7 linked regions of the Homo sapiens genome follow. The protein of the gene in region 1 interacts with the protein of each later gene in a pairwise test. Each region holds a gene or a part of one and is shown in the gene's direction. Other genes may lie near its edges. The genes, in order: GIT2, RUSC2, SAFB2, QPRT, KCTD5, POLR1B and SH3GLB2.

Region 1 (3,500 bases):
TTTAATGTTCTCGTCATCTCAGATTGTGAACGTTTTCCCAATTTATTTTTAGAGCCTAGATTCAGATTTATCAGATGGACCAGTCACTGTACAGGAATTTATGGAGGTCAAAAACGCTCTAGTGGCTTCTGAGGCCAAGATACAGCAGCTAATGAAGGTGAATAACAACTTGAGTGACGAGCTGAGAATTATGCAGAAAAAGGTAACATGTTAATAAATGCCAGGACGGTTGACGCTTTAATCCCATAGTACAAGGAAGAATCTCAGGCACTGTGATGTGGTCCGAGGAAAGAAAAACAGTTATTGTAACAGCCTTAGAAATCTTTGGGCCAAGTTGTCTTTTTGAAGCAGGATGTATTTGGATATTTAAAATGAAATATATCCAGAGTAAGTTCCCCAGGTAGGAGAAACCTAACATCTATTTAAGCATTTGTGCCCATTAGAATAACCCTTGGACTATTCTGTGCTTCCTGGAAACCTGGATGGGGCTCCATGGATGTGATTCTTCCCATTGCTAGGGAAGGATGATCACACCATGGAGACAGAGCCAATGAGAGCCCTGGGCAGGGGCATGTTTATCAGCATTCAAACCCTGCTCCCACCCTGGCAGCCCTATCCCACATCCCCACCTTATTGCTCACCAGTTTTTACTACTAACTTGTATTATCCCCAGAGCCTACAGGAGGGCCTGCCACAGAGTAGGTGCTCAAAAAATAAGAAAAAACATTTCATTTGTACTAGGAAGAGCTGCACACTGGTAAAAAACAATCTCATTTGCTCAGCATTTTCTCATTCATTACCTTTTGAGAGAATCAGAACCGTGTGAATATATTAATCCCTAAAAGGAGTGTGGTTGATGGTAGCAAGGAATACCCTTAGTAGGAGGGGGATTGTGTATGCAACTCCTTATGAGATGGCTAAATAAGGGAATTCGAAAAATTGCAAATTTTGCCCATGACTTTGTGGGTATCACTCATCATTCAGCTCTAAAATGAGATTTGGACACTTTACTTAACCAGAAACAAAATGAAATATATAATCTATGTCTTTAGGCTGTCATTTGAGAAGTAAGGTTTTCAAATCATTTTCAAGACCTGAGGACGTGGCACACTCCATGTGTGCCTGGACTCTTTTCAGTGCTGCTTCCTAAAGGAAGGTGGAAGAACTAAAAAGGGGCCCATGCCCCTCTGTTTACTAGGGAAGGAAATTGCTGTGCACTTTTGCCTGGGGTTTGGTCTAGGATTCTTTTGATGTTGACTTCTAGAGCATTTTTGAGACTTTTTGAAATAAATGGCTCTAATGCCTATAGTAGCAGGGAATGAAGAATGCTTAAGATCAGCTAGCCTTAAACGAACAGACACTTGTTCTGTGTCTCCCAGCCCTGTCTAGGGCTGCCGTGCAGCTGTAAACGAGACAGACCGAGAGCCCCTTTGTCATAACATACAGGACCTGTATTTTCTTTGCCTTCTTTGGAATATATTTTATTTAGTGGATTATAGTTTGTTCCATTAATTGGACTAATAATTTTGACCAGGTGACTATTTCTGAAACATGCTGATTTTGCCACTGTAAATCAATCTGCTGCACATCACCTTTTAAAATCTAACAATGCTTCTTTTAGTATTTTTGGAAATCACCAGAGAGAGCCTCATTATCTCTGAAAGCAAATGTCTTGAGCTTCTTTGAGAAATGCAAAGTGAAATTATTTGCTTTTGCTTATTGATTATCTCATCAATTCTTAGAAGTGCTTTTGATTTCTGAAACTATTGAATTGTCTATAACTTTTTATTTTCCCTTATACTCCTTCCAAATAAAAAAGTGTAGCCTGGTTCTTATTAAGATAAACGTCATTAAAATTTATGTGAAGACATCTCTCTAAATACAGAGTACTAACATTTTTAAAAATTGAAACCAAGAACTTGTGCTCATGAGAACACATTCAGACAAAATCCAGGCATGAAAAGTGTTAGGATAAAGTTTCAGATTTCAAGGCCTTAACTAAATAACTGCCACAGAGGCTTTTTATACAGACAAACACGTGATCACATGCACCAGTGCCCCATTGAGGGACCTGTGTCAGTTACACACCTCAGTCCTTGAACCTTGACCATTTCACTCTAGGCCCTGGGTTCTCTAATGAATAGTTTCAACAGGCACTTCATGCCTGTCTGTATCCTGGAATGTAGAAATGTTCAGGGCTGCTTTGTCAGCTGCTTTGCAGCTGTTCTTTCCCTGGAAAGGGAATTGCAGATATGAGCTATACCCTGCCAGCCTTTGTGATATAAAAGCATTCTATCATTCTGTAATGGCTTGCTCTTCAGAGAAACAGAATGAGTGGTCTTTTTGTGGAAGAGGCAGTAAGTCACACTTTCACAGCAGTTTGGCATGATTAATATAAAGTATATGGAATTTGTTTATTTAGCAAAGATGTATTGATTATATTTCAAAGTTGGGTAAAGTTTTTAATATACATAAAGTTGACAAAGTAGCATGATTTGTATCTGATCTTTCACATTTAACAGTTGCTTGGAAAAGATGCTAATTAATGAAGAGGAGCAACTACTATTGGTGTATTTTTCACAGATTGGTGCTTTCTAAATAAAAATTGAAAGTAACTCCTAACATTGAATGGGTTTGCTACTGAAAAAGTAATGATCTTCTGGTGCAAACAGTTGCTTGTGGACTTAAACCTTGGCACTGGTGGGGAATTTGGTCAGATTTTACAATCTCTGTCAAAGAGTAGACAGCTGAACTCACACCACACCCAGCTTATAGAATGTCCATGGAAGATGAAGGCGCACCAGAAGGGAAGGACCCTGCGCAGAATGGACGTGGTGAATGGTGTTTAAAATGCCAGATGCCAAAGAGTAACACGATTCCCTGCTGACCCCTTAACTCTAATCCATCCAGCACCATGGAGCAGCCTGCATGTGAGGAATGGAAGGAGCATTCAGGGCCTCCAAGTGACAGTCTCTAAAATGGGGTGGTGCCAGGCAGATTAGCATGTTCAAAGCTGACACCACTGAGGTCGTGTTTTTTGGGTGACAAAGCCAAAGGAGAGAAAGGCCAAATATTCCAGCCCTGGCCGAAAGATGATCACTCACCAGACGGAAGCAAGCGTGCTGCGTGGAGCATCCATGCGAAGATGTCAATTCCATAGATCAATAGGTTTCCAGTTTTCTTCGTGATATGTTAATATAGCAAACTTACCATGATCCGGTTTTCTCTTTTTTCTTTTTTTTTTTACAAAGTGCTGAATTGTTTGGAATATCAAGAGTATTATGTAATAAAAACTTGTTGATCATAATTTTTCTTGTTGGCTTTTTGGAAAGCAATAGGCGATCTGATTTTTCACAAGCTGAACTTCTGTCTTTCTTGCTTTGCAAAGCAACCCTAGTCATCTTTGTGCTGCTTCCATGGTGTCTGCTGTCATTTTTGGCCTTTACAAATTGCTCAGGGCTCATTTGAAAAGCAAGTTACCTAAATGATGTTTTAATGAT
Region 2 (3,500 bases), on another chromosome or scaffold:
GAACTTCCCCTTAGATGGCTGAATTGGAATCGTCTATGGAGGAGCCATTGCTCGGCCTTTCTCTTGGTTGTGTGGAGATCAGAAAGGAATAAGATCTTCTCTGAGATACAAAAGCATAAAATAAAATGAAATCAATCAGTGAAAGAGCTTGACAGTTAAAGTAGGATTCAATACAACCTAAATGTAAAAGCTACAACTATACAGCTTTTAGAAGAAAACATAGGTACATTTCTTTATGGTCTTAGGACAGGTAAAGATTTCTTAGGATACAGAAAGATTTAACCATAGAGAAACAAACTCTATGATCAGTTGATCAATTGATCAATTTAAATTTAATAAATTAAAAACTATTTATCAAAAAACACAGTTAAGAAAACAGGGACAAGCCACAGGCTGAGAGAAAATATTCATGAGGCATATATCTGACAGAGGACTTGTATCCAGAATAAATGTTAAAACTCCTATAATTCAATCATAAAAAGACTAACAACTCAGGTTATTTTAATGGGAAAAGTAGTCAACAAATAACCAGGCACCTACTGTGTTCCAAGCACAGAGTTCACTGTATTGCAGTCTCCAACCTCAGAACTGTGCTCCAGTCTGGGAGATAGATATGTCAACATCACATTACAATACAATTGTCAGTGCCCTCCAGCCAAGGGCTCCGTCATCTCCCACGCTCATGTGTTCTTCATCTCTGATTTAGAGAGTCAGCTTTCTGCATTCTGTATCTGTACATCAGTTTTTCCATATTAATGCATGTATGTCCTGGTAATGGTTTTGTGGCAGAATCATACATTCTTTTATGTGATACTTGTGAATGCCTCTTGAAAATGCTTTAAAAAGGAAGAAAAGGTACTCATTGAAGGTCAGTGATGGCTGCAACCCATAGGTACCCCTAAAATTACTGCTATCTATGTAAGAAAGTTCTCTATGCTCCTTTTAGTCCAGACTCGGGATTATGGCCAGGACTCCAGGGGAAACGTAGTTATGTATGAAAGGAGAAACCCCCTCAAAGAAAAAAAATTGTTTAGGCCCGGCATGGTGGCTCACATCTGTAATCCTAGCACTTTGGAAGGCCAAGGCAGGTGGATAACTTGAGCCCAAGAGTTCAAGACCAGCCTTGGCAACATGGAGAAACCATGTCTCTACAAAAAATACAGAAATTAGCCAGGCGTGGTGGCACACACCTGTGGTCCTAGCTACTCAGGAGGCTGAGGTGGATCACTTGAGTCCAAGAGGCTGAGGCTGCAGTGAGCCATGATCGCACCACTGCACTCCAGCCTCGGTGATAGAGTGAGAACCTGTCTCAAAAAAAAGAAAAAAATTGCTTAAATTATGCATAAAATGGGTATTTATTACATACAAATTAGAAAATACAGCTGAAGCAAAAAGAATAAAATTAAAAATAATCCAAATCATTCAACAGTGATAGGCACTGGTAACAGTTTGTTGCATGTTACAGATTTTCTTCTATGCATACAGACATGTTTATTTACAAAAATGGTGACAAACACCTGGCTAATTTTTGTATTTTTAGTAGAGACAGGGCTTCACCATGTTGGCCAGGCTGGTCTTGAACTCTTGACCTCAAATGATCCGCCCGCCTCAGCCTCCCAAAGTGCTGGGATTACAGGCATGAGCCACCACGCCTGGCCTGATTTCAGGACATTCTATTTCTATGGATTTGCCTATTCTGGACATTTCATATAAATGGAATCATACAACATCACAAAAGCCCTTTGTGACTGGCTTCGATTGTGCCCAATTTTTTGGCTACTGTGAATAATGCTGTTATGAACATTTGTGTACAAGCTTTAGTGTGAACATATGTTTTCATTTTTCTTGGGTATATACCCAGGAGTGCAGTTGCTGGGTCATGTGATGACACTATGTTTAACATTTTGATAAACTGTCAGACTTTTCCAAAGTAGCTGCACCATTTTACAATACTCCCGGCAATGTTTCAGGGTTCCAGTTTCTTCATATCATCATCAACATTTGCTAGTTGTTATTGTCTGTATTTCTTATTTTATCCCTCCCAGCTGGAGTGAAGTAGTATCTCATTGTGATTTTTATTACTCTAATGACTAATGATGTTGAACATCTTTTCATGTGCTGGTTAGACACTTGTATGTCTTCTTCAGAGAAATGCCTATTCATACTGTTTGCCCTGTCTTAAACTGGATCATATGTCTTTTTTTTTTTTTTTTTTTGAGACAGAGTCTCACTCTGTCACCAGGCTGGAGTGCTGTGGCATGATCTCAGCTCACTGCAACCTCTGACTCTCTAGTTCAAGCGATTCTCCTGCCTCAGCCTCCCAAGTAGCTGGGATTACAGGCATGCACTACCACGCCCAGCTAATTTTTATATTTTTAGTAGAGATGGGATTTCACCATGTCGGCCAGGATGGTCTCTGTCTCCTGACCTCATGATTCTCCCACCTCGGCCTCCCAAAGTGTTAGGATTACGGGCGTGAGCCACTGTGCCCAGCCTCGTATGTCTTTTTATTGTTGAGTTGTAAGAGTTCTTTATATATTCTGATTAGAAGTCTTTTATCAGGTATATGATTTGCAAATATTTTCTCCCATTTTATGGATTGTCTTTTCACTTTCTTGGTGGTATCCTTTGAAGCACAAAAGTTTTTGGTTCTTATGGAGTCCAATTTATGTTTTTTCTTTTGTCACTTGTGCCTTTGGTGTCATATCTAAGAAACCATCACCTAATCCAAGATAACAAAGATTTACTCCTATGTTTTCTTCTGTAACCCTTAATCTTGTAGCTCAGACTCTCTTAATATCTGCCCTTCTACATCTCTACCCATTAGCCCATTAAACACACAAAGGCTTGGAAGTTCAACAGAGGAGCCTGCCTTCCTCTCAGAAAGGGGAGGAGGAAGCAAGATTGTAAATAATTGCTGCTTAAATTTAACACAATTATATTTTAATACCTTGTCCCTTATACGTATACTTATTAGCCATATTTTTTATGCATTGTTTGTTCATGTCCTTGAGCATATGTGACTTGCCTCAGACTTTACCACATTCCACATGACGAGCTATGACCCTATGGTCTACATGAGTTAAATTTTAAGAAATTGATTGTGTCAAGGATTCAGTTAAATGATGAATAAGAGAAAGGCAATGAGGGATTTAGACTCAGGGTGAGTGAAAAGGAAATGATAGGAATAAAAAGAGAAAGGAAATGAATGAATTTTGGAACATTACATGTGAGGAGTCGAAGGGAATGAAGACTGTTGCGACCTGAACGTGGAAACACAGGAGACTAGAACTTGAGCAGGCCACACTGCCACGGTGCAGCCAAGAGACCAGAGAAGCTCAGGATGGGTTCTGTGTCCTTGGCACCAGGAGACCTTGAACAAGAGAGAACTTTGCTTTAGCCTATAAGAGGTAAAACTGGGAAGAGAAGACTTTCTAGTGGATCCCAGTAGTGAAGGTTCTAAGCTAAAACTGGGCAGCATTTGGGCACTTCAGGATGTC
Region 3 (3,500 bases), on another chromosome or scaffold:
TCTGTGTGCCCGAGAGCCAGTGCCTGGGCTGGCGGGTGTCGTGCTTAACCTGGGTCCTCGAGGCAGGGGCCAGCACCTGTTCACACGTGAGCCGCCAGACATGCCAGGTGGCATGAAAGTCATCAAAGGGCCAGGTGCAGTGGCTCACACCTGTAATCCGAGCACTTTGGGATGCCAGGGCCAGAGGATCCCCTGAAGCCAGGAGTTCAAGACCATCCTAGGCAATGTAGCGAGACCCCACCTCTACAAAATATTTAAAAATTAGCTGGGCATGGTGGCGTGCACTTGTAGTCCCAGCTACTCAGGAGGTTGAGGTGGGAGGATTGCTGGAGCCCAGAAGCTCAAGGCTGCAGTGAGCTGTGATCACAACAGTGCACTGCAGACTGGGTGACAGAGTGAGACCCTGTCTCTTAAAAAGAAGTCATCAAAGCCCTTTACAGTATATGGGGTTTGGCTATGTTGCCAGGCTGATAACTGCTGGGCCCAAGCGATCCTCCTGCGTCAGCCTCCCTAAGTGCTGGATTACAGGCTGAGCCTTCTGCTGGCTCAAAGTCTATTTTCGCCCCTCCTCTGATGTTGGACCTTGGCCCGTGTGGAAGGCCCAGCCGTGTGTGGCTTTGATGGGATGGGATGGTGCCTGGGTGCTGAGGCCTGTCTTCCCTGTTGAAACCTTTCACCTAAGGTCAGAAACTGCAAGCAGAGTCCAGTTGTCATTTTGCCGCGGCTCCCTTCTGGGCTGTGGTCTTGAAGGAGGCTTGTCCCTCTGCCTTGACATTCGGCCTTTTCATGTCGGGATGCCCGGCGTTCTCTTGTCACTTTTCCTCAAATATTGCTCAGTAAAGCAAAAGCTGTGCTCACAGCATTTGGAAAATGTTCTCGAGCAAACCTAGAAATGTTGCCAGCTGTGCTGCCTTTGCTTTTCTTAAGGTAGCTTTGTTAAGTAAGGTAACCCCCTGCACGCGCAGCTTTAGGGAAGCCCGGTGAGCTTTTGGATCCATTTTTTTTTTCTGCTTCCAATACACACCCAGTTTTGGGCACCGGGCTTTCTCCTTGGAGGCTCACGCAGGGAGTTCAGGGCAGCCTCACCTGTCCCCGCAGGGAGCGCGAGCAGCGGGAGCGGGAGCAACGCCTCGAGGCCTTCCATGAGCGGAAGGAGAAGGCCCGGCTACAGCGGGAACGCCTGCAGCTCGAGTGCCAGCGCCAGCGGCTGGAGCGGGAGCGCATGGAGCGGGAGCGGCTGGAGCGCGAGCGCATGCGCGTGGAGCGTGAGCGCAGGAAGGAGCAGGAGCGCATCCACCGCGAGCGCGAGGAGCTGCGGCGCCAGCAGGAGCAGCTGCGTTACGAGCAGGAGCGGCGGCCCGGGCGGAGGCCCTACGACCTGGACCGGTGAGTCCCGCCCAGAGCGTGGGCAGGACGGAGACCAGCGTGGCAGCGGTGTTCACCCTTCCAGCAGAACAGCGGCTTCCCTTCCGTCCCTGTCGGTGGGGAGAATGAAATTTGATATGGAGCATGCGCCTTGGGGACCCCCCGCCGATCTCACTGCGCTGCTGCAGGTTTATTAGTTCGCTGTCCTCACCGGAGGCTGTGTAGCATCTTCCTGAACTTGAGTTATTCTGGGAAACTTGATGGCTGCCACTTGCTGAAGGGTTTGTGATGCTTTTCCTCTCCACTTACCCGTGGAGCATAGCTGTTCTCTGTCTTGCGAGACAACCGAACGCCCGTTAGGCCCAAGTTGGCCACCGCTGACTCTGCCGGTCTCATGTGTCCTTGTAGACAGAGAGGCAGAGCAGGCGCTGTGGAAAAGGAAATTGCCTCTGATTTAGAAAGTAGGTTTATTGGTCTCTAGCTACCCCAGGCGGCTTAATTGACAGTCACCCTTCACCCCGCTCTCCGTGAGCCTAGTTTTCTGGTAAAAATCAGGAAGAAGATAATTGGATGCCGTCCAGAGCTGTGTGTAGTTCACTATCACCCCATCTAATTCTCTTTGCTTTTGCAAGAAACTCAGAGGGAGATTCAGGCTCCCGTGGAAGGCAGGGAAAGTAAAAGTGTGGCAACTCGAATGCTATTCCAGAAGAATCAAATATTTCTTTTCAGTTGCTCATGAGGGGGGATCAAGGTAATAACAGCCTCACGAGACAATGAGCTCACAGCAGTGCTCCTTTTGGGACTGTTGGATGAGAACACAAGTGTGCCTCTCGGCTGTTAATGGCGGTTTTAATTTATCAGATCAAAGCAATGATGATCGAATGTTTAGAGATTAGCCCTGCAGGACATTTTAAACGATACTGGGTCTGGGGAGAGAGCTCCCCTCCCCACCTCCACCTCCTCCTTTTTTCCTCCTCCTCTCTCATTAATGGAATTTGTATTCTTTTAAAATAAAAACCAACAGACGAGATGATGCCTATTGGCCAGAAGGAAAGCGTGTGGCAATGGAGGACCGATATCGTGCAGACTTTCCCCGGCCAGACCACCGCTTTCACGACTTCGATCATCGAGACCGGGGCCAGTACCAGGACCACGCCATCGACAGGTCAGTGGTCTTGTCCCCTCCTTTAGCTACAGTCATTGTGGGCACCGGGGCATCCAGCTGACCTCGTTCTCAGCCCAGTGCAGGGGTTCCTGTGTGCTCTGAAGCCTCGTTTACTTCTGAGATCCACAGTGGATGACTCTGGCCTTGCACAGAACTTGAGCGAGTTGCTGGAATCCCCAGCTTACCTCAGAGGAAGGCATCTCAGAGCTCATTCCATCCACCGACTCTTTTCATAGGTGGGCCAGGAGGGGCCTGAGTGCAGGCCATCTACACTGAGCTCTCTTGTGAGGCAGCAGTGTTTGTCAGCACAACCTGGTTGTGCCCAAGAGCTACCAGAGAATTGATGGAGGACGTGCAAAATTTCTCATGAGGCCTGTTTTGTATTTCGAGGGTCTGGGTGGGTTTTTTAGCCTTTTAAAATGAGGAATACATCTAGTTTATTAAAAAGGCAGCCCTTGGTTTTCCAGTGTAAGAATCCTGTCTTTGGGCTCCCCTCGGCTGCACATCTCTGACCCATTTCCCCATTCATTGGCTCCTTCAGTCGGAATGTCAGAGCGGGGAGAACAGGAAAGGGAGGCTGAGAGGCCACACTCTTAATTCTGCTGGAGTTTGGGGTGGAGTTGGTGTGAATTTTGATGAGTCCCACGCATTGGGTCAGACCAAAGATGAGGGATCATTGGAGGCCTCTGTTTGTCCCTGTTCCCCTAACTGAGAGCTCCCCGAGGAATTTTAGTTCAGTGAGATCTTTATTCCTACCTCTTTAGGATCCAACTTCGTTTCTGCCCCCGGGGAAAAGCCTTTCGATTTGAGCTAGCTTTTTCCTTTTTTCCCAGGCCAGTTATAGTTTTTATGTGATGGGATGGAAAAAGTATCCCAGTCGCGAAACTTGCCTGACCTGCAGAAATGTGTAGTCGTGCCTGGTGCTGTTTGAACGGGATCTTTTCCTTTTGCAGGCGGGAGGGTTCGAGGC
Region 4 (3,500 bases), on another chromosome or scaffold:
CCACCACACCTGGCTAATTAAAATAAATTTTTTTTTTTTTTAGAGATGGGTTCTTGCTGTGTTGCCCAGGCTGGTCTCAAACTCCCAGCCTCAAGCGATCCTCCAACCTCAGCCTCCCAAAAGTGTTGGGATTACAGGCATGAGCCACCGTGCCTGGCTCAAATCTTTTCATATGTGAACATCTCAGCATGTTTTCTTTCTTTCTTTTTTGAGATGGAGTTTCGCTCTTGTTGCCCAGACTGGAGTATAATGGCGTGATCTTGGCTCACTGCAACCTCTGCCTCCCAGGTTCAAGTGATTCTCCTGCCTCACTCTCCCAAGTAGCTGGGGATACAGGTGCCCACCACCATGCCCAGCTAATTTTTTTGCATTTTTTTTTTTAGTAGAGATGGGTTTTGCCGTGCTGGCCAGGCTGGTCTTGAACTCCTCACCTCAGGTGATCCACCCACCTTGGCCTCCCAAAGTGCTGGGATTACAGGCGCAAGTCACTGCGCCCAGCCTCATCATGTTTTTTTCTTAAAAGATAAAGACTTTTCTTTTTACTACAACCACAATACTATTGTCAAAACTAAACTTTAAAAATTTCCTTGGTGTTATCAAACATTCAATGTCCAGATTCCAGTGGTTTCATAAATAGCCTAATTTGCTTTTAGTTTGTTTGAATTAGGATCTAAGTAAAATCTACACTTTGTGATTGGTTAGTATGTTTTAAGAGTCTTTGAAACTTTATTTTTTTGATTAAAAAATGTTTAATTTAGAGATAGGGGTCTCACTATATTGCACAGGCTGGTCTCAAATGCCCCAAAGTGCTGGGATTACAGGTATGAGCCACCACACCTGACTGATTCTTTTTTTTTTTTTTTGAGATGGAATCTCACTCTGTTGCCCAGGCTGGAGTGCAGTGGCGCAACCTCGGCTCACTGCAACCTCCGCCTCCCAGATTCAAGCGATTCTCTCACCCCAGTCTCCCGAGTAGCTGGGATTACAGGCGTGCACCACCACACATGGATAAATTTTGTATTTTTTTAGTAGAGACAGCGCTTCACCATGTTGTCCAGGCTGGTCTCGAACTCCTGACCTAAGGTGATCTTAGGCCCACCTTGGCCTCCCAAAGTGCTGGGATTACAGGTGTGACCACCACGCCCAGCCAATATGTGGTCTTATGAGAGCATTGGTTCTTTTTTTTTTTTCCCTGAGGCAGGGTCTCACCCTGTTGCCTAGGCCAGAGTGCAGTAGCTCCATCATAGCTCACTGCAGCCTCCAACTCCTGGACTCAAGGGATCCTCCCACTTCAGCCTTCTGAATAGCTAGGACTACAGGCGTGTGTCACCATGCCCAGCTAATTTTTAAAATTGTTTTTGTAGAGATGGGTTCTCACTATGCTGCCCAGGCTGGTCTCAAACTCCTGGCCTCAAGCGATCCTTCTGCCTCGGCCTCCCAAAGTGTTGGGATTACAGGCATGAGCCACCGCCCCTGGCCGAGCATTGATTCTTGATCCTCATGTGCATCTGAGTCACAGAGCAGGGTGGGGGCTGGCTCTTCCCCAACCTGGATCCCTGGAAACTACCCCCAGAGATTCTGGTTCACTGGGTTGGAATGGGCCTGAGCATCTGAAAGTTTGAAAAGCTCCCTGTGATTCTGGTGTGCAGCCCAGGCAGAGGCCCCACTGTGTCCACTTCTCTTGAAAGGAGTGGTTCACACCAACACCCCCACTTCCCTACCTCCCGTGCGCTCCTCGAGCATGACAATGTGGCTTCTGCCCCCGACACATGGCACAAAAACCGCTCTGGCACAGGCCTCACAGTTGCTAAGTGCAGAGCCCCATCCTCAGTCTTCCTTCTATTTACTTCTGCTCACCTCCCAAAACCCTCTTCTCCTTCCCAGGTACCCACTCCTGATGATGCTTCTCTTTTTGTTGGACATGCCCTGTGGGTTCTTTATCTTATTATTTTATTTTAGAGACCGTGGCTTGCTCTGTCACCCAGGCTGGAGTGCAGTGGTGCAATCACAGGTCACTGCAGCCTCCAACTCCTGGACTCAAGCCGCAGCCTCCCGAGTAGCTGGCGAGTAGCTGGGACTACAGGCGTGCACCCCCATGCCCAGCTAACTTTTTCTTTTTTTCTTTTGTTTTTTGAGACGGAGTTTTGCTCTTGTTGCCCAGGCTGGAGAGCAATGGCACTATCTCGGCTTACTGCAACCTCTGCCTCCCAGGTTCAAGCGATTCTCCTGCCTCAGCCTCCTGAGTAGCTGGGATCACAGGCGCCCACCACCACGCCTGGCTAATTTTTGTATTTTTAGTAGAGACGGGGTTTTGCTATGTTGGCCCCGGAGTTCAATTTTTGTATTTTTAGTAGAGACGGGGTTTCACCGTTTTCACCAGGATGGTCTTGATCTCCTGACCTCGTGATCCTCCCGCCTCGGCCTCCCAAAGCGCTGGGATTACAGGCGTGAGCCACCGCGCCTGGCCACGGCAGCATCTCTTCTGAACTCCAGAGCCATTCCCTACCACCCTCTGGGCACCACCATCCACATCTCCTGCTGCCGCCTCAGCCTTAACCTCTGCAAAACCAAATCCGTTCTTTCTCTCGAGCTCTGCAGAAGCTAAGCTGTTTCACCAGGCCACGATTCAGGAAACGCTTTGGGATTCAGCTTCTGTTCTTGTGAAATGGGAAGAATCCCTGTGGTGAGCTCCAGATGAGAGCACAAAGGGGAACAGGGGTGCCCGCGGCTGGCACGCCATGGCTGGCACGCCATGGCACTCAGTGGGGTCACCGCCCCCTCCTGCTGTCCCACCTCCACCCTGCCTGCTCTTCTCCTGGAATGACTCCTTCTGCCAGCTCTCAGCTACCCAGGCCAGAGGCCCAAGGCTCCCACATCTCTTTAGCTACTAATTCTGGTAGATCCCCTTTTGGAAATAGCCCTCAAATCTACCCCAGAGCTACTGTCAAAGTTCAGGGCTCCATCTCTTTTGGTTTTTTTGAAAATATTTTTTCAAATTAATTATTTGTTGGCCGGGCGCAGTGGCTCACACCTGTAATCCCAGCACTTTGGAAGGCCGAGGCAGGTGGATCACCTGAGGTCAAGAGTTCAAGAACCAGCCTGACCAACATGGTGAAACCCCATCTCTACAAAAATACAAAAATTAGCCAGGGATGATGCTGCATGCCTGTAATCCCAGCTACTCGGGAGGCTGAGGCGGGAGAACCACTTGAACCCGGGAGGCAGAGGTTGCAGTGAGTTGAGATCACACCATTGCACTCCAGCCCAGGCGACAGTGAGACTCCGTCTCAAACAAAAAAAAATTATTTGTGGAGGCAGGGTCCCACTATGTTGCCCAGGCCTCAAGTGGCCCTCCTGCCTTGGCCTCCCATAGCACTGGGATTACAGGTGACAGCCACCGCGCCCAGCCTACTTTTTGTCTGGCCAAGACTACCTCAGCCTTCTTTTGCCTCCCAATCTGTCTCCAGTTGGTGGCTGAAGTGACCCTTCTGGAGCAAAAC
Region 5 (3,500 bases), on another chromosome or scaffold:
ACTAAGCTTTGAGTCATGTGTGGGGCAGGGACCTCCCAAATTCCAGTTTCTATGCTGGGTGAGGCCGAGAAGCAATGGAAGGGAAGGGTGGTGGGGAGGCAGCAGGCCTGGCGACCAGGGCACAGGGGCCCCACCCTGCTCTCCGAATCTGGCTGCCTTGGACAAGCCTCCTTGGTCTCTGGCCTCAGTTTCCCCATTAGTAATTGGTGACATCAAAGTCCTCTTGTGGGCCAAAGATATGCCACAGCTGCATAAAACAAAACAGAAGAGAGAGTAGAGGTGAAGGTTTTGTGTGCGAAATTGAAACAGAGTCACTTGAAATGGATAATTTCAGAGTAAAAACTAAGTATTTCTAATTAGGTTGATTGCAGATGTTGGTGCACAGGAAATTCTATGCCTTCGCGTCTAGATTTCTGTGGGGCAATTTGACAGAGTTTATCTCCTGGATTGGCTCAGGGCACTGCACCCTCTTGATTTCGTTCCCCTCTGGTGGCACGTGTCTCCGAGCACCGGGAATGACTGAGAGCCGCAGGGCCGACCCTCTTTGCAGAGCTCTGGGAGCTGCGGGAGGGTTGGGCAGCAGCAGGGTTATGTTGGGTTCAGAATCTGGCGTGAGAGCCTGGCAGTCTCCACCCTCATTCCTCACTGCCGTTTTCTTTTCTTTTTTTTTTTTTGAGACAGAGGCTCACTGGATCGCCCAGGCTGGAGTGTAATGCACAATTTTGGCTCACTGCAACGGGGCTGTCAGGTTCAAGTGATTGTCCTGCCTCAGCCTCCCTAGTAGCTGGGATTAGAGGCACCCTCCACCATGCCTGGCTAATTTGTGTATTTTTAGTAGAGACAGGGTTTCACCATGTTGGTCAGGCTGGTGTTGAACTCCTCACCTCAGGTAATCCGCCTGCCTTGGCCTCCCAAAGTGCTGGGATCACAGGCGTAAGCCACTGTGCCCAGCCCTTCACTGCCATTTTCAAGGCTGCTGGTTGCATTAGGGACCTGTCCCTGAGAGGCTGGGGAACCCCCACGTTGCCCCCGGTGCTTTGCTGGGTGACAGCATGGATGGCGGAGAGCTGCAGCCGGAGTCTGGTGAGATGAGCAGAGCGGCCAGTCTTGTTACCACACTTCTCTGAGTGTTGCTCTCCTGACCAGACGTCCATCTGCGGCTGCCCTGTGGACCTGGGGAGTGGGCGAGCAGTCAGCTCTGTCTGCGGAGTCTTCCTCCGTCTGCCAGGGCTGTGTGTGCCCTGGCTCGGCGCTGTCTGCCATGTGCTCCCGTGGCCAGGGTCGCCCTCTCCTCTGTGGTTTGGCAACTGTCCTGCCCGGCCTACGTCCTGTGGCTCCGGCTGAAGCCTGGGACCTCTGGAGATGGGTGGCTCAGCCCAGCCTGCTGGGCCCACTCAATGCCAGCTTGGGCCCGGCCACAAGTAGGTCAGATGCCAATTCAGTGAGACGCGGGGAAGATGAGGGAAATGACTTGTCAATAAAACAGTCTTAATTATGGCTGTTTTAGAAAAAAACCACCACGAACCTTCCTGAGATCAAGCGCAGCCTGTGCTGGTTGTGTAAGCCGTGGAACGTATGAGAAAGCCAGGAAGAAGAGCACCCCCACGCCCAGCCCGCAGCATCTCACTGGCTTCCTGGCCGCCTCTCCTCATCCCAGTCGTAGAGGCGTGAGCGGGCCGGGGCATCTTTCCTTCCTCGTGTCATGGGGGCTTGGGCAGGCGCCGCTGATGGCCTTACGGGCAGCACAGGGGCCCTGCCTAGGTTGGCCCAGACGCTGTTCTAAACCTCCCCGAGGTGACCTTGCTGCCTTTGTCTCCATGAGCCTCGGAGTATATCCTGAATTTTGTATGATTTTGTGTTTCCCATTTTCCCATGTTCCATATTTTTTTGTTGTTTCTGCATCAGGGTGGAGGCTGATCCACATCCCCAACACCAGCAGTGAGCTGCCGAGGCCCTCGCGCCTGGGCTGGGCACTGTCTGGGCCTGGGCTGGCACCACGAGTAGCCCCCGCACACATTAGGCCGATCTGGAACATGTGGGCTCACCCGAGCTGGGAGCACCAAGACCCTGCCTACATGCTTGGAAGCGAGTCAGGCCACAGCGAGACCCGAACCCTGGTGGGATTTGGGGGTCCTGGTTTAAGACCCTGGCACTTCCTATGGATGTGGAAATCTCTCATTGAAAGCTTCAAAGAGAGCAGTGGTGAGAGCAGCACCTCCACACGCCACTGCCTCCCCGCCCTGGTGCGGATGTCCCTGACCTTCCGCTCTGCCCAGACAGGGCCTGTTTCTCGAGGAAACCCACCAGTTAGAAGGAACCCATGGGAAGAAACGGCCGGAGAGCTGTGAGGCCAGCCACAGAAGAGCCAGTTTTGGAATTTCCCACCAAGGGTTCAGCCTACTGCTCGCCCTTCAGCCTCTGGTGCCCGGCGGCTCAGCTGGGTTCTAGGGCCACGCAGGGCTCTGCAGTGTCACTCCGGGAGAGGGCTGTGGGGGCAGCTGCAGGCCCGGCGCGCCGAGTCCACGCAGCCTGGGTAGGTCCTGCATGGGCCCAGAGGTCGTGGGGCTCAGAGAATTGAACCACGTGGGAGGAGTGTACTGTGGCGGGGGCCCCATAGGAAGCCCACTGTCCTGGAGGCACTGGGGCGGCGGGGGTGTGGAGCGGCTGGCAGGTTCTTGGTAGACGCAGCTGGGGTTCTCTGCTCCTCTGCCCTGCAGCCTTGGCTCCCAGCGAGGTTGGCAACAAGCATCTGGACTCCTGGAAGTCTTCCAGAGGCTGCTCCTTTCAAGTCTCTTCCTAACTGGATGCACGTGGGGTCCCCCGCGGTGCCTCAGCCTCCCCTGCCTTTGATGGCTGGGTATTTTGCACCCAGGCTGCTGGCCCCTGAGCACAGGGATGGGCTGGAGCCACAGGCTGCAGGGAAAGCGCATCAGGAAGGTTCCTGGGGCGTGCGGTTCCCACACAGGTGCGTCCGGGGGCTTCCTGGTCCCTCTGTCAGGAGCCTGAGCTCCAGGGACTGAGACGAGCTGGGCAGAGCCTAGCCACTGTGGCCAGAGCTCTCACTGCCAGCAGGATCTCTCTTCAGGCACCCTGGAAAGGTGCCATGGCTCCGGCTGGTAAACTTGGCCTTGCAAAGCTCCACGTCCCTGTGTCTGGATGTGCCCAGCCCTGCTGATACGGTGTCTTTAGGGTGTCGCTTTTCTGGCCAGAAACGTCTCTGGCCGGCAGCACCTTTGTCCAAGTTCCTGTTCTGCGTCCAGGAAGAATGAGGTAGCAGACAAGTGGAGGGTGAGCATGACGAAGAGAAGCTTTACCAAGTGTTGGGACAGTGCAGAGGAGACTGTGGGGGCAGCTCCTCTCTGTAGGCAGGTCGGCTCATTCAGTTGGCAGCTCTCAGCAGAGAAGCGGCCCCGGACTGGCTGGCTCCTCTCCATTGACTTCCCAGCTCTCAGCAGAGAGGGTAGCTTCCCTCTGCAGCTGGTCTTCCACTTGCCAATTGT
Region 6 (3,500 bases), on another chromosome or scaffold:
AAGACTGAAGTCATTTTAGGGGACAGAAAGGCAAGATAGGTTGAGCCTGTCTGATAAAGAGAAGTACCCTGTTTTTCTTCCATACTTTTTTCCCATGTCCCTAGGACCTTTGTAATATACTTGAGAAAACTGTTAATTCACACAAAGACAGTGTCTGTGTACTGTTTTCAAGGGATCAGTAGTACATTTCACCTCTGTGTTCCTATTCTGTGTGTTGTACTACCTTTGGCTAGGAGTGAGGTTCATGTTTACAGTTAGTCATGTATCTTTGTTTAACAAGTTGCAATTCATCTTTTTGGCAGGAAATGGGGGGCTATTTTATAATCAATGGCATTGAAAAAGTCATCCGAATGTTGATTATGCCTCGGAGAAATTTTCCCATTGCAATGATAAGACCAAAATGGAAAACCAGAGGGCCTGGTTATACTCAGTATGGTAAGTTCTGGAGATTATTAGAATATTTTTTAAGGAAAATTTAAAACTTTTTTTTTTTTTGAAGTAGATGCATCCAAATGGTCTTTGATATTTTTGTTTCTTTTTTTTTTTTTTTTTGGTAGGGATGGGGTTTCACCACGTTGCCCAGGCTGATCTCGAACTCTTGGGCTCAAGCAGTCCTTCTGCCTCAGCCTCCCAAAGTGCTGAGATTACATGCATGAGCCACCGTGTCTGGTCTTTCTTTTGTTTTTTGTTGTTTTTCTATTGAGCATTCTTGTGTTAAGTTTTCATAATTGGGATGGAAGAAGAAATGGAGAGATGTTAGTCAGAGGATACAGACTTGCAGTTACAAGATGAATAAGTTCTGGGGATCTGATGTACAGCCTGGTGATGATAGTAATACTGTACTGCTTAAAATTGATGAGTACATTTTAAGTGTCTCAACCACACACGCGTGCACACGTACTACAAATGATAACTATGGTGATTGATGTTTTCATCAGTTTGATTGTGGAAATCATTATAATATATGTATATGTATATTCAAGGTATTGTACACCTTGAATATATATGATTTTTATCAATCATAAGCATTTTAAAATTCACTTTTGCTAACTGAAAGAGCATGTGTATTTTTGTTACTACTTATGAAGATGAAAGCTAGTCTGGCTTGGCCATAAGTGGGTGTGGGTCTTGGCTGTCTTCTGGTTCAGGCTGCTGCACTTTTGCAAACTGAAAGAGCATGTGTATTTTTGTTACTACTTATGAAGATGGAAGCTAGTCTGGCTTGGCCATAGGTGAATGTGGGCCTTGGATGTCTTCTGGTTCAGGCCACTGTGGTACACCCCTCAGGGTCTCTGTCTGACAGCCACCTGGCCTCTGTTGGAACATTCTCTTTGACAATGCCTAAGACAGCATGTTGTATTCTTGAGCAACCCTGACAGTTAAACAATTTGTCCTGATAGTTGAGCTAAAAATCAGACCTTAATTATAGCCATACATACTATACCTAGAAAAACAGCATGCCTGAATGTCTAGTGATTTTCTTTTGCATCAGTTGATGGTAGTATGTCTTAGCAGTCTTTGCCTGAAACTGAAATAAAATCTAAAATTCTACTTTTCTCCATTGGAACTATTAGATCAAGCACCATGTCTTGACCAGACTCCACAGTTTAAGGCAGATATAAAGTGCTAAAAGATGTGGACTCTGTCCTGGAGGGAAACTTTGAAGTTTGCTTAAATTCATAGTTTCGGTTATTTTACATTAGTGTTTCTCAATCTGGGTAGATTTTGCATGCAAGAGGACATTTGCTGAGGTTTAGAAACATTTTTGATTGCCAGTCTTGGCTAAACTTAGTGATTTGGCTTTAATTGTGTCTAAGAGGTTAAGATTGTTCAGAAAGAAAATGGTTGAAGCAATTAAGATATCAATGAGTTTCTGATTTTTTTGTTGTTTGGTTCAATAGGAGTTTCAATGCACTGTGTGAGGGAAGAACATTCCGCTGTCAATATGAACCTCCACTACTTGGAAAATGGCACTGTTATGTTGAACTTTATTTACCGAAAAGAACTGTTCTTTCTTCCTTTGGGATTTGCACTTAAGGTATGACTTAATGAATGCATTCTTTTGTTATGAAGAAATTCACTGGGGGTAGTATCCTGTGCACATTGGATGGATTCTCCTTGTTAAAATAATACTGTACTAGTTGTCTACTGCTCCAAAACAAATTACGTCAAAATTCAATAGCTTAAAACTCAATAACATTTCTGTCTCACAGTTTCTGCGGGTCGGGAGTTTGGGAGTGCTTTGGCTGGGCACTTGTGGCCCAGGGTCTCAGGAGGTTGCATGGAGATGTCAGACAGGACTGCAGTCATTTTCAGGACTTCCAAGGTGGCTCACTCACATGGCTGGCAAATCTGCTGGTTGGTGGCAGGAGGTCTCCTCATGGGGTTGCTCTCTACATGGCCCTTTCTGTAGGCTGCTTGAGGCAACTGTCTTCCTCCATATAGTTAGCTGAGAGAACAGAGAGCAGAAGATGCAGAAGGAAAAAGCTGCAGTGCCCTTTGTGATCTAGCCCTGGGAGTCTCCCATTATCTTTTTCACCACATTCTCTTGGTCAAGCAGGCCAGCCTTGATTCGGCATGGGAGGAAACTACACGTTTGTGAACACCAGGAGATGAGGACCCTGGAGGCAATTGTGCTGTCTGGCTATCATACAAAGAATGCTTTATTTTAGAGAGTTTACTTTGATTCAGCAATAGCAGAGTGCTAATTTTCCTTGGGTATTAAAAAAATGAGAGAAGATAATTATTAGTGAATAGATAAAGTATTTTAGTTATTAGTGAGCAATTAAACCTTTTATTTTCTATTCTAGGCACTTGTCAGCTTTTCTGATTATCAGATCTTTCAGGAGCTCATCAAAGGAAAAGAGGATGATTCTTTCCTTAGGAACTCTGTTTCTCAGATGTTAAGGATTGTAATGGAAGAGGGTTGTTCGACACAAAAACAGGTCCTTAACTACCTAGGTGAATGCTTCAGAGTAAAACTCAATGTTCCTGACTGGTACCCAAATGAGCAAGCTGCGGAGTTCCTGTTTAAGTATGTGTGCTTTGTCTAAACTGTTTTTGGAGGGGCGGAGGGCTGTCAGTGGTTCTTTGTATTGGTTGCAGTTTGGGCGGGCGAGTCATTTGGGAATGAGAATGAATCTTGGGGTAGAATCCTGGTCCTTGCTAGCCGGGGGCTACCTTTGTTTTTGCGGCCCTCCTCACTTGTATTTTTTTAGTAGTCGTGTTTTATTTTATAGTACTTTTTAACTTTTATTTTGAAATAATTTCAGACTTCCAGAATAATGTCCAAATAGTACATTGGATTCTAATTGTGAACATTTCATTCATTTACATTTACTTTTTTACTTTCTGTGTACACAGATGTACATTTTTCTTTCTGTACAATCCCTGAAAGTTGCAGGGATTGTATCACTTTATTTCTCCAAAGCAAGGACTTTGTCTTATATAACCACTGTATAATTACTAAAGAAGCCAGCTCCATACTGGTGCTGTCCAGT
Region 7 (3,500 bases), on another chromosome or scaffold:
CTCGGCCTCCCAAAGTGCTGATATTACAGGTATGAGCCACCATGCCTGGCCTTTTTTTTTTTTTTTTTGAGACGGAGTCACTCTGTCACGCAGGCTGGCGCAGTCTCAGCTCACTGCAGCCTCCGCCTCCCCGGTTCAAGCAATTCTCCTGCCTCAGCCTCCCGAGTAGGTGGGATTACAGGCGCCCACCACCACGTCATGCTAATTCTTGTATTTTTAGTAGAGATGGGGTTTTACTATGTTAGCCAGGCTGGTCTCGAACTCCTGACCTCACGTGATTCACCTGCCTTGGCCTCCCAAAGTGCTGGGATTACAGGCGTGAGCCACCATGCCTGGCTTCCTTGCTGTCTTTTTTTTTTTTTGAGATGGAGTCTCGCTCTGTCACCCAGGCTGGAGTGCAGTGGCGTGATCTCGGCTCACTGCAAGCTCCACCTCCCAGGTTGATGCCATTCTCCTGGCTCAGCCTCCCGAGTAGCTGGGATTACAGGCGCCTGCCACCACGCTTGGCTAATTTTTTGTATTTTTAGTAGAGATGGGGTTTCACCGTGTTAGCCAGGATGGTCTTGATCTCCTGACCTCGTGATCCGCCCACCTCGGCCTCCCAAAGTCTTTCTTTTTTTAAGGCAGGTTCTTGGTCTGTCACCCAGGCTGGAGTGCAGTGACATGATATTGGCTCATTGCAACCTCCGCCTCCTGGGCTCCCACCTCAGCCCCTTGAGTAGCTGGGACTACAGGTGGGTGCCACCACGCCCAGCTAATTTTTTTTTTTTTTTTTGAGACTGAGTCGCACTCTGTGGCCCAGGCTGGAGTGCAGTGGGGCGATGCTCATTGCAAGCTCCGCCTCCCAGGTTCATGCCATTCTCCTGCCTCAGCCTCCCGAGTTACTGGGTCTACACGTGCCCGCCACCACACCCGGCTAATTTTTTGTATTTTTAGTAGAGAAGGGGTTTCACCTTGCTAGCCAGGATGGTCTCGATCTCCTGACCTCGTGATCCGCCTGCCTTGGCCTCCCAAAGTGCTGGGATTATAGGCATAAGCCACCGTGCCGGGCTTTTTTTTTTTTTTTTTTTTTTTTGTAGAGAGGAGGTCTCACGGTTGCCCAGGCTGGTCTTGAACTCCTGGGCTCAATCCATCTGCCCACATCGGCCTTCCAAAGTGCTGGGATTATAGGCATGAGCCACTGCACCTAGCCAAGGCTTTTCATTAATGATGGTGATAATAATACTAGCTAACATGTATCAGCCCCATACTGTGTGCTGGCCAAATAGCCAATGAACTAGATCCTGTTATCTGCATTCTCCAGGCAGGGGCTCTCAGGTCCAGAAGGGAGACTTTGCCTCTTCGAGCCTTGGTTTCCTCATTTGGGAAATGGGGTGAACGCCACCCCCCTCAAAGGACTGGGTGAGGTAATAGAGCCACGAGGAAATCTGAGCCTCTGCTCTGGAAGGTCTCATTTTGGGGAGTGTGACGAGGAAGAGGAGGCAGAGCCAGCCAGGGTGGGGGAGGGAGGCCAGGAGCAGCTGGCCCCAGGCAGGAGCTGAGGCCATACCCCTGGCAGCTGGGCCCTCCCAGCCCTGCAGGGAGAAACCCAAGCTCTGCTACATAATTGATGGCTGCTGAGCTCCTGGTGGCCGCCCAGCCCGCCACCCCCCACCGCAGCTGGAGCCAACTGCAGCCAGGGATGATTCATGGCTGACCGACTCCTGCGTGGCCCTGCCCCTTGCTCAGCCTCAGTGGCAGCATCTGTGAAATGGGAAACAGCCCTCCTTGCATTAGAGGTTGATGAGGTCATGAGGAAACCCTTAGGACAGGGCTGGCCAACAGTGTTTGTTGTTCCTTATCTTACTCCTGCAGGTCTTCACCCTGGCTGTGACCTTGGGCAAGCCCTTTCTCTTAGCTAGAGAAGGCCTTGGTGTCCCCGTTTGGAAAATGGGGACATGTGTTCCAGGGCCCTCTTAGATCAGAGGGGCCAGGACTTGGACCAGTTTCTGGTTGTTCCTAGGTAGCCCCCACGGCTTCTGCCAGCTTTGATGGGGACCCATGCGACATCCGGGCCCTGGGTGTGCCCAGCCGCTGGCTCTGATAGGCTGGCAGTGTTTCCATCTACCCTACCAGGTGGCCAAAGCCAACCGTTTGGCCATCCTCCCTCCCTGCATTCCCCTTCCTTCCCAGACGTCTCTGCACCCATCAGCTCATAGCACCGGTGCCTTACGTGGGGCAGCAGCACTGTAGCCGACCCAGCCTTTATGTCTAACCCACATCTTTCCTCTTTCATCCTCATAACCTATGGGGGAGGTGCTATTATTCCCTTTTTTCAGCTCAGGAAACCAATGCTCAGAGAGGCAGAGCCCCTTGCCCAAAGTCACACATCTTGACAGTGGCAGAACTAAGACTTGAATCAGGTCCTTCTGAACCCCGACCCTGGGTTCTTCCTCTCCCTCCTCTGGCACCCTCTCCCTAGCAGCTCCCAGCTGCCCATGGAGCCCCCTGATAACCCCAGACCCTACTCCCTGCCCTGTTTGTCCCGAGTACTTTCTACCAAGTCCTCTCCTTCAGAGTCAGACTCAAAGGACCCTAGGGCTGGCCTCCCCAGGGTTCCTCACCGCACTAAGCTGTGTGCCAGATTGTATATGAAGGTGCATTTTTGTGGGGAGAGAGTGTAGCTTTCATTGGATTTCCAAAAGAAGCTGTGATTCCCACACTCTGGCCCAGCCACCTCATTTCACAAAGGGGAAAACAGTGAGGCCCTGCCAGGTCACACAGTATCACACTCAGGGCTGGTTCCTTGACCCTGGGGCCTGCCTGGGTTCCTGCTGGTGGGGAGGGGCAGTCCTCCCTTTCCCCACCACTCCCCCACCTCCTTCTGAGCTCTCCCCCTCCCCACCCCTTGGCCTTCCCCTCTGCGTAGTTCACGGAGGAGAAATTTGGCCAGGCTGAGAAGACTGAGCTTGATGCCCACTTTGAAAACCTTCTGGCCCGGGCAGACAGCACCAAGAACTGGACAGAGAAGATCTTGAGGCAGACAGAGGTGCTGCTGCAGCCCAACCCCAGTGAGTGCGTGTTCGTGGGCCCGGGGAGGGATGTAGTCGTGGGGCAGGGATACAGTAGGAGGCCTGGCCCTGTTGTGGCATAGGTGGGGCGGGGCTGCAGCCGGGGTTTCAGCTAGACTCTTGGGCTCAAGGCTGTTGAAGAGGGACAGTTAAAAGAAAATGGGGGACTCTGTGTTGGGCTGCCAGACACTCCAGGGCAGTGGAAACACTGAGTTTTGCACAGAAGAGTTAAAATGCCTGGAAGCTAAAACACACGTGGGAGAAGAGGCAGGCAAAACACACACCTGGTTGGTCACTCTGTTGGTTTTTTTTTTTTTTTTTTTGAGGTGGAGTCTTGCTCTGTCACCCATTCTGGAGTGCAATGGTGCAATCTTGGCTCACTGCAACCCTTGCCTCCTGGGTTCAAGCGATTCTCCTGCCTCAGCCTCCTGAATAGCTGGGACTACAGGC

Evidence for each region.
Region 2: the proteins of GIT2 (region 1) and RUSC2 interact in a two-hybrid assay, tested with the Homo sapiens proteins (one large-scale study listed by BioGRID and IntAct).
Region 3: the proteins of GIT2 (region 1) and SAFB2 interact in a two-hybrid assay, tested with the Homo sapiens proteins (one large-scale study listed by BioGRID and IntAct).
Region 4: the proteins of GIT2 (region 1) and QPRT interact in a two-hybrid assay, tested with the Homo sapiens proteins (one large-scale study listed by BioGRID and IntAct).
Region 5: the proteins of GIT2 (region 1) and KCTD5 interact in a two-hybrid assay, tested with the Homo sapiens proteins (one large-scale study listed by BioGRID and IntAct).
Region 6: the proteins of GIT2 (region 1) and POLR1B interact in a two-hybrid assay, tested with the Homo sapiens proteins (one large-scale study listed by BioGRID and IntAct).
Region 7: the proteins of GIT2 (region 1) and SH3GLB2 interact in a two-hybrid assay, tested with the Homo sapiens proteins (one large-scale study listed by BioGRID and IntAct).

Annotation. Positions count from the first base shown.
Region 1 is NC_000012.12:109,947,869-109,951,368, reverse strand, and holds part of GIT2 (ARF GTPase-activating protein GIT2), read left to right. Parts: intron 1-52; coding exon 53-202; intron 203-2,522; coding exon of another isoform or gene 2,523-2,546; exon of another isoform or gene 2,547-3,500. UniProt on the Homo sapiens protein: GTPase-activating protein for ADP ribosylation factor family members, including ARF1.
Region 2 is NC_000009.12:35,542,111-35,545,610, forward strand, and holds part of RUSC2 (AP-4 complex accessory subunit RUSC2), read left to right. Parts: intron 1-3,500. UniProt on the Homo sapiens protein: Associates with the adapter-like complex 4 (AP-4) and may therefore play a role in vesicular trafficking of proteins at the trans-Golgi network.
Region 3 is NC_000019.10:5,591,777-5,595,276, reverse strand, and holds part of SAFB2 (scaffold attachment factor B2), read left to right. Parts: intron 1-1,098; coding exon 1,099-1,386; intron 1,387-2,389; coding exon 2,390-2,530; intron 2,531-3,483; coding exon 3,484-3,500. UniProt on the Homo sapiens protein: Binds to scaffold/matrix attachment region (S/MAR) DNA. Can function as an estrogen receptor corepressor and can also inhibit cell proliferation.
Region 4 is NC_000016.10:29,682,180-29,685,679, forward strand, and holds part of QPRT (nicotinate-nucleotide pyrophosphorylase [carboxylating]), read left to right. Parts: intron 1-3,500. UniProt on the Homo sapiens protein: Involved in the catabolism of quinolinic acid (QA).
Region 5 is NC_000016.10:2,689,023-2,692,522, forward strand, and holds part of KCTD5 (BTB/POZ domain-containing protein KCTD5), read left to right. Parts: intron 1-3,500. UniProt on the Homo sapiens protein: Its interaction with CUL3 suggests that it may act as a substrate adapter in some E3 ligase complex. Does not affect the function of Kv channel Kv2.1/KCNB1, Kv1.2/KCNA2, Kv4.2/KCND2 and Kv3.4/KCNC4.
Region 6 is NC_000002.12:112,548,965-112,552,464, forward strand, and holds part of POLR1B (DNA-directed RNA polymerase I subunit RPA2), read left to right. Parts: intron 1-302; coding exon 303-435; intron 436-1,901; coding exon 1,902-2,038; intron 2,039-2,810; coding exon 2,811-3,034; intron 3,035-3,500. UniProt on the Homo sapiens protein: Catalytic core component of RNA polymerase I (Pol I), a DNA-dependent RNA polymerase which synthesizes ribosomal RNA precursors using the four ribonucleoside triphosphates as substrates.
Region 7 is NC_000009.12:129,021,832-129,025,331, reverse strand, and holds part of SH3GLB2 (endophilin-B2), read left to right. Parts: intron 1-2,908; coding exon 2,909-3,050; intron 3,051-3,500.